Regions from separate parts of the Homo sapiens genome. Here all the other regions are linked to region 1. Evidence: fine-mapped expression QTL. A gene starts in region 1. Each other region holds a variant in brackets. All regions are shown on one strand. Distances are from middle to middle. Region 1 holds the start of USP31 (ubiquitin specific peptidase 31). Region 2 overlaps USP31 (ubiquitin specific peptidase 31). Region 3 overlaps USP31 (ubiquitin specific peptidase 31).

Evidence for each region.
Region 2: its variant is fine-mapped to the expression of USP31 in whole blood (TOPMed, PIP 0.97).
Region 3: its variant is fine-mapped to the expression of USP31 in transverse colon (GTEx, PIP 0.99). The same link has a PIP of 0.9 or more in esophagus mucosa and thyroid.

Annotation. Positions count from the first base shown.
Region 1 is chr16:23,148,214-23,150,973 of GRCh38, forward strand. It overlaps USP31 (ubiquitin specific peptidase 31), which reads right to left and starts at 1,239. Exons shown (of 16, transcript NM_020718.4): 1 at 425-1,239. The coding sequence starts at 1,057. RefSeq lists silencers at 380-609, 740-839, 940-989, 1,140-1,239 and an enhancer at 1,420-1,639.
Region 2 is chr16:23,063,371-23,066,130 of GRCh38, forward strand. USP31 (ubiquitin specific peptidase 31) reads right to left here. Exons shown (of 16, transcript NM_020718.4): 16 at 1-2,760. Among named protein-coding and RNA genes, the nearest start is that of USP31, 85 kb to the right of the region's middle. The variant T/C (reference allele first, on the strand shown) is at 1,450.
Region 3 is chr16:23,070,295-23,073,054 of GRCh38, forward strand. USP31 (ubiquitin specific peptidase 31) reads right to left here. Exons shown (of 16, transcript NM_020718.4): 15 at 1,751-1,903. Among named protein-coding and RNA genes, the nearest start is that of USP31, 78 kb to the right of the region's middle. The variant A/G (reference allele first, on the strand shown) is at 1,357.

The sequences.
Region 1 (2,760 bases):
AGGTCCCCCAGATGAAGAAACTGTAAGAACAGAGAGGCTGCTTAACTTACCCGACGTCACATTGCTAGTAAGTGGCAGAACCAGGATTTGAACCCATGCTCAACACTCCCACCCCACAAAAATGCAAGTTCCATGAAGGCGGATAGTCTTGTTCATTGCAACGTCACTCCCATTGCCTATTATCACAGAGTATGGGCACGTATGTAGTAAGTTCTCAATAAATACATGTTTGAGTGAGTGAGTGAGTGAATAAATGAATGAATGAATGAATCTCCTTAAAATCACTGGTCGACTGCCCAGACCACTCGGAGCAACCAATGCAGAAGCCTGCCGGGCCAAGAGGAACCGAGGGAAGGAAGACCTGGGCGGGCAGGTGCCCCAGGGGCTCGGGGTGCAGTGGGGGCGCGGCGGCGCGCGGGCTCACCTTGAAGTCGCGGCTGTGCTGCGGGGTGTACTCCAGGGTCCAGAGGGCCCGCACCAGGTGCGCCAGCTGCTCAGTGACCTCGCCCTGGCCCTGCGCGCCGCGGCCCGCAGGCTGCTCCGGGTCAGGCGAGGGCTCGGGCCGCCCCGCCCGGTACTGGCCCAGCGCCAGGTACTCGGCGAAGAGCTCGGTGTTGCTGAGGCACTGCAGCGTGGCGTTCATGAAGCACGTGTTGCCGTGGTTGCGGAGCCCCGCCACGCCGGGCACCGGCTCGGCGGCGCAAGCGGGCGGCGCGGGAGAGGCGGGCGGCGGCGGGCACGGCGGCGGCGTGGGCGCGGCGGCCGGCCCGGGCGGGAAGCAGCTGCGGAGGCCGCCGCGGTCTGGGGCGGCGCCCTCAGAGCTAAGGTGCGAGAGCGTGGACAGCGTCTTGAGAACGCGGCTCATGAAGCTGCCCACCGAGCGTGCAGAGGAGGGCGAGGAGGGCGAGGAAGGCGCGGCCGGCCCGGACGCCCCGGGGCCCCCCGCGCCGCCGCCGCCAGCGCGGCCGCTCCGAAACAGCCGCTTGCTGAAGGAGCGCTTCTCCTTCCCGCTCGCCGCCGCCGGCGGCCCGGACCCAGGCGCCGTTACCTTGGACATGGCGGCGGCCGCAGACACTCATCACCGCGCCCGCCCGCCCGGCCCGCGGCCCCGCCACGGCCGCCGCCGCATCCCGCAGCGCCGCGCCTCACCGGGCCCGGGGGCTCGACGCCCCACACACCTCAAAGCGCAGCCGAGCCAGCGAGCGAGCGGCGGCCGGCGGGGCCAGCGGGCGCGCGCGCGGTCCGCCCAGCTGAGCCGCTCACGTGACGTGCCTCCCGGCGCCGCCCGCCCGGCGCTGAAGCCGCCTCGGCCGCCATGTTCACTGTGGGACGGTAGCTGCCTCTCCAGCCGGACGCGATGCCTGGAGGCTGCGGGCGCGGTCCTGCTGCGTGAAGCCCGAGGGAGGCCATGTCTAGTGTGGGCGCCGTCCCGGCTTGGAGGAAAAGGCTGGGCTCCCGTTGGATGGTGGATCCCCGGGGTGGGTCTCTGTCTTTGCTGGTCAGATGGCAGAGGCGGGAACGTGCAGGAATCAGGATGCTGTCAGTTACCAGACCGTGCAAGAGCTGGTGGACATGGCCCTGACAGGTCCTGGGCAAGTCAGCCCTGTCTGGCTCCCAAGGGACGTTGCAGATACCTACCCTCTGGGTGCCAGCGGAGCGCAGTCACAGACCCTGGCACGTCCCAGCGGGCTTTTCTTCCTGGCTGCACCTTGGAGTCCCAGCGAAACGCTGTTATCATAACTACTTTCCTTTTCATTCCAGCCTTTAAAACTCCTCCGGGCTCTCCCATCATTCATCATTCCATTCATTCATTCACTCACTCATTCATTCAGCAGTTACTGGGGATATTGCAAAGAATTAAACCTATTAAATTAGAATCAAATGTCATATCCCCAGCGGATTAAATTAGCACGGTTTCTACCTGCCCTCTTGCAGCTTACATTCCTACTGGGTGTTTACAATAGCTGTTGTGTTCCACACATTATGCCAAGCATGCAATATTTTCTTTAATCTTTAATTCACCGTCTTTGAGATTGGTACAGTTCTTATCTGATTCAAACCCAAGTTTTATTTACAACCCCTATACTTGACCTCTAAACCAAAGGTCACGAATCCACAAATATCACAGGTCACAAACCCACAAATGAGTGAAGAATCCTGGTGTTTGAATCATCATATTGACTTTCAAGTGACTTGGGTCTCAGTGTTGGGGGAAATATAAGGAATGATGGGGACTATAGCAGACTTCAAATTAACATCTTTCTAAAGAGGTGGCTGCCACTCAGCTCCAGCCAGTTGTTCCCATGTGAGAACAGGAGCTCAGCGTTACCAGATCATCTGATGTTTTAAGAGAAGGCAGAAATCCTATTTTTAAACGTTGGTTCCATTAAAAAAAAAATAGTGCAGGGAGCAAAAAATAGTACATCTTTGGGATGCCTTTAGTCCAAAATCAACTAGTATATGACCTCCTCTCTATAGGCTCCCCTCTGCTAAAAGGGCTAGTCTGAGTCCTGAGGCAGAAGAGAGAAATCAGAGAAGGGAGAGCCCTTCCTCCTTTTTAAAACATGAAGGCCACCTTACACCACGTTTCAAAGTAAATGGTTTTTACCTTTGACCTCCCTCCCCAATGTAAGTAGGGCTCTATGATGACATCTCCAGGGTGCTCTGCACTGTCCCTAATCGGCTCCACTCTCCTCTTAGTCAAAATTCTTATCTGGACACCAGGAAGAAAGCCATCTGATTATTCACACTAAAATGTGA
Region 2 (2,760 bases), 85 kb before region 1:
CTATAAAAGCATCTTTTAATTCTTAGCACTATTAGAAGCCACATTCTTTCCTTGTGACCAAAATAGAACCCTTGAAGATATAAAAAATTAAAATCTATAGAAAATGGCAGGTTATTTTTAGAACAAAACACTTTAGGAAAGTCTTCAGGCTAAATACAGTATGTACACCAATGATGTGTGTTCAACATATCCAATTCCACTTCTGCTTGCAAAATACTTTACAATCTCGCCAATGATCAGAAAAACAGCAGAGAAATATATGCAGAGCAAAACAAGAAATCGCATTCATGCTCTTCTACACAATGATGAGTAAGCCATATTTTGAAAATCACAAATTTAAAAATAGAGCTCCATAATTGTTGCCTTTTTTTTTTAAGACTTAACATTTCATGTCTATATGTTTTATTGTTTGCTTGCATAGGTAGTAAGAGCATGCTTTCTGAGTTATATGGAGGCCACGCACAATTGTTTTTACTTGGGGAAAAAAATGGTCATGCTCAAAATGCATCTGCAAAATACTTTGAAAGTTGATCAAAAGGCAGTGTGAGAGTGTTCATTTAAATAAAACCACTGGATTTCTCCCCAAACCATGTAGTAGAGTTTAACAATAATGTACCCTTTATGAAATGAAAGTTAAAGACAGCCTGCACAGTAACAGCTACTTTTTGTGTTCGTTTGTGATAGGTACTGGTTTGTCAGCAAAGTTTGCCTTTCTCAACTACAAATAATACAAAGTTCCACGCACCTCCAGAATACGTGTTTTATTGAAACTGTGCTTATGACTTGCATACTATTTCAAAAATCCAACCCAGAAACACTAGTTAAATCTTTGTATCCAATAATTATAATAACCTACATTGGAAACAATCACTTCGGCTGTTCAGTAATTTGTCCGAATGAAATGTAACGTCTGATGCCCCTCTATGTGAAATAAAGCACGCTTATTTCAAATAAATGAGCTTTGTTCACAGCTCTTCTCTGCTCCATTTTCCCTAAAGGCTGCCACTCTTGGTCCCTTTACATACTGTTGCTATTTTTTTCATGATAGTTATTTTAAGGGAATGACAATGTTCCCCTCAAATCCCACATCCGTCTCATACAAACATAAGATGACCCAATGTTAACGTAAAGTGACTGTGTAATGGATTTTCAACCCCTAAATAGTAGAGACAGCTCAGTCTGAAAAGGTGGATGGAAGAGTAAAATGTCTCTAAAGATGAAGGGCACTTTTGGTTTCCAGAAGGAACAGACTTGCTCAAGAGAACCACAAGCCTTAGCCGATTTGACCGGAATCCACGTGATCTCTTTTCCCAGGAGAACTGTCACTCCATTTAGGACACCATCACATCCCTTGCTTGATGGGCTGTGCTCCCAGGGCTCCTCAGCTACAGCAAATCCCTGAAGCTTTCAGTTTTGCCTCTGTGCTCAAAGAAGGCCCTCCATAAACGT[T/C]TGCAGAATGAATGATGAAAACAAGATTGCAAAAGCGTGTCAGGCAGCCTCACAGATAATTACAGTATTTTAGCACACCACAAATACTCCCACATCCGTTCCCACTGGTCCAGCATATTATTACTTACTTTCAGTTCAGCTGCTTTCAGGACGAGAAAATACAAAACGGATGGGAAATGGTCTAAGATGACTGGAGCCTAACGGTTTGAGTTTCCACATTATCTAAGGGATTACCAAGGCAAGATGTAGGGCTGTCTTAAGGAATGATACGGCCTCAGTGCAATGGATGTTTACAAGAAATCAAGAATAAAACTTTAAAAAGCAAACAAACATTACAGATACAACATTACTGTTGGTGATTATTTTGTGCCTACCAGGAGATGACTGCTCTAATCAGGCCCATCTAGATGTCAACGAGAAACCCAGGCCTATCATCCCTAGCAGATAATTTTTAACCCCAAAGCACATACACGCTCATTGTGCTAAATATTGCTGGGAAAATTAAAAAAAAAAAAAAAAAGAAAAGAAAGAAAGAAACCAACACCAAGTCCCCAACCCTACCAATGAACTAAATTGAATCAAGTAACTACTTTCCCACAAGATACTTCCCACCTCAAGGAGCACCTCCAAACTTTCGGGCCAAATAACCTTTCCTGTGGCCTAAAGTTGTACCTAGTAGTTGGAGATAATGAAATTTTCACTGTTTACCAACTATGGAAATAAAATAGCTTCATGATGTCTAGACAATGCCATGATACTTCCTGATTTTTTCTATTAAACCTGAAACAAGGACTAAACTCCATGACATACAGTTTATAGACACTGACATTTTATTCCAGATCCCATGGAAAACCAAAGGGATTTGTAGAAACGTTTTTCCTTTTTTTTTTTAAGTCACTAGACATCGTGGAAAATCCATTCCTAGATAACTCAAGAATAAAAATATTTACCACTGTGAAAATTAAACTAGTTTCTATTAATGCTTGACTACAGCAAAAAAGAAGTGTTATTAAAAACCTTTGTCTAATCAAACTATAATTGTTTCAGAGATTCAGATAGGAGACTTCAAATGAGATCTACCTATTAAACAAAAATGAGAGGTTTGAGTTAGACATTCAATTCCTGATATAGATGATCTCTTATTTGGTGCATCTTTTTCAGGAGATAAAAGCGATACAGAAAAACGAGAGCGGTGGCTACACACTGATGGGGCTGTGATGTGCTGGGCTGAACGCAATGACAGCATCGAAGGCAGCCAGTTGCCGCAGATGTACTGAGCAGATGAGAGTGGTACTGCTTTGAGAACCCACC
Region 3 (2,760 bases), 78 kb before region 1:
CACTCAATTCCACATGTAAGCTGGCCTGTCATTGTTGACTACAGATGTGGATCAACGCAAAGAGCTAAAAAGACTTGGATATCATATACTCCTAAATCCAGTAACTTAAAACTTCCAAAAAAATATTCATAATCAGAGGCCAGGCGTGGTGGCTCATGCCTGTAATCCCAGCACTTTGGGAGGCTGAGGTGGGCAGATCACGATGTCAGGAGATCGAGACCATTCTGGCTAACATGGTGAAACCCCGTCTCTACTAAAAATACAAAAAAATTAGCCAGGTGTGGTGGCAGGTGCCTGTAGTCCCAGCTGCTGGGGAGGCTGAGGCAGGAGAATGGCGTGAACCTGGTAGGCGGAGCTTGCAGTGAGCCGAGATCGCGCCACTACACTCCAGCCGGGAGACAGAGACAGACTCCGTTTAAAAAAAAAAAAAAATACTCATAATCAGAACCACATACTCCTATTTGGTGTGGCTCAAAACGTCCTAAGAAAATATTCTAAATTAAATTTTCTACACAATGATACTACAGTTGTGATATTTACAAAATTCTGTCTTTATAGAGCCTAAGAAACAGGCTCTATTCTGTGGGCACCACCCAGCACCATTATACAATGATGATGCTTAAAAGGATACTGATTTCACCAACTGCACTGCTTAAAAATAGACTGAGGCAAACCTTATTGAGGCTTATCGTTAAAATGACAGTGAATTCTAAGTTTAAAGGCAGTACTGAAAATAACCTCTGCCTAAACAAGCAAAGGTTCACCAGTCAGTTTTCCATAAGATGTGAGGAGCCGGAAGGAGCTTAGGAATTGCAGTCCAATGTTTTTATTTTACAAATAAAGAGGAAGAGGCAACAAGCCAGAAGAGGTGGCAGAGCTAGAGCTATGGTGCAGCTCTCTTCACCTGGCATTCTTCTTCCAGCCTATTGCAATTTTAACTCAATTTCATTTTCTCAGAATTATCCATCACCACTAGAAGCAGATTACAGTGATCGAAATGCTGGCTGCAGACTGAGACTTGTTGGCAGATTGAGTCACTATGCTCATTATAGAAGCTGCACTCACTCCTTCCAGCTCCCAGTACTGTGGCTGCCCGGTCCTTCCCACACCACCTGGGTCCCTGTCGAAACTAAGGTCTATCCTGCCATTACCCAAGCAGAAAGTGAAAGTTTAAAAAGAAAAAAAAAAAAAAAGAGTTCAATTTTTATCGGACTTTTTACTATCTCTATGCAAAGGCAACAACAGCTTTTGTTTTAGATGCTTCTGTACTAAAAAGAACATTCCACAGCTTCCTCCCTGGGGAGCAGCATGTTGGAAGGTGAGGCTCTCCTGGGGCCAAGAGAGCCAGGGGCCTCC[A/G]TGCCAAGCCTGGAGCCGACTCCCCACCACGTGGCCTGGGCAAAGCACAATCTCTCTGAGCCTCTTCCAGCTATCCTGCTTTTTAAAACACTTTGGGAAAAAAAAAAAAAAGTATACATTGGTATATAAAGCTCCAGCCTCCACAAGAGACCTTACAAGTGGAAAATAATGAAGTGGAAGGAGAAAGTACTGGGACACAGGAAAAGCAAATGACTCTGTTAATACAAAATGCTTTTTAGGATCATAACTCACAGCTACACAGCTCCACTCCCTGTAGCTCCCTTTGGGTTCTCCTACCATCTCCTTGGGACTTAGCTCCTAGGAAAAACACGAGGGACTCTGCTGTGTCTGTGAGTTACCATTCTGGAAATTTGTCACCAAAACCCACACCCACCATCATCTTCACTCCTTTCTCCAGTCATCTCCACGGACTCAGAGAGCGACGCCAGGGAGGTGCGTCTGGAGGAAGCTGCAGAGGTCACGCTGGCTGGCTTGCTGCCCGGGAGCCGGCTCACCCAGTGTTCACACAGGGAAGAACTTGTGGAGCCTGCAGAGAAGAAAACAGGCATAGAGGTCAGGCTGGGGTCCCTCGGCCAGCCCTGAGCCACACACACCCTCATGAAGGTGTTACGAGCTGAGCTGGGGGGCGTTGATGTCCTCACCCCGAGGTCAGCATCAATTCCCAGACCCTGTGTCATGTCGTGCCTGTCCGAATATCCCCAGTTAAGATGAAAAGATGTAAGGCAGACTTCCTGACGCATGAAATTTGTAGTAATAAAATGCAAGGATAGGGATGAATACTTTATAATGTAAGTCTGAGTCTAAAGAATTGGCAAGAGAATGGAATAGACAAGCACTCATACATTCATTCTACAAATATTTATGAAGCATCTACATGCCAGGCACTGTTCTAAGCAATTGCAGTAATATTTCTTACACAAAGAGAAGAGAGGATGCGGCAGTATACTCTTTTTCTCTCAGCCTGTTTTAAGGAAATTTGTCACCATTTTCATAATATTAATAATACACACACACAGCTATATGTCAATCTGCCCTGTCTGTTCCAGGGACGCCCTTAAATATTTATTAGGGCAAGAGAAATTGCTCTTGAAACAGAGTACATGAAGCAGCATGACTGTCTCAAGTAGACCTCAAGAAGGTGTCATTTCTGAGCACATCTGAGACTGGTGGAAGAGCACTGGAGTTCCCGCTGTGTTAACTGAGTGAGTGGCTGTACACTGGGTGGGCTTGGCCCCCAGCAGGGCGTCATTCTGCTTGAGAGATGCCTTGTTTTCACTGCTTTGAACTCACCCCCTGCAAGCTTCAAGAGAAGCAAGGATTCATAGCCCCTAACCTGATTGCACATCACCACATTCCAATCCTCTGTCACGCTCTCTTGAAGTC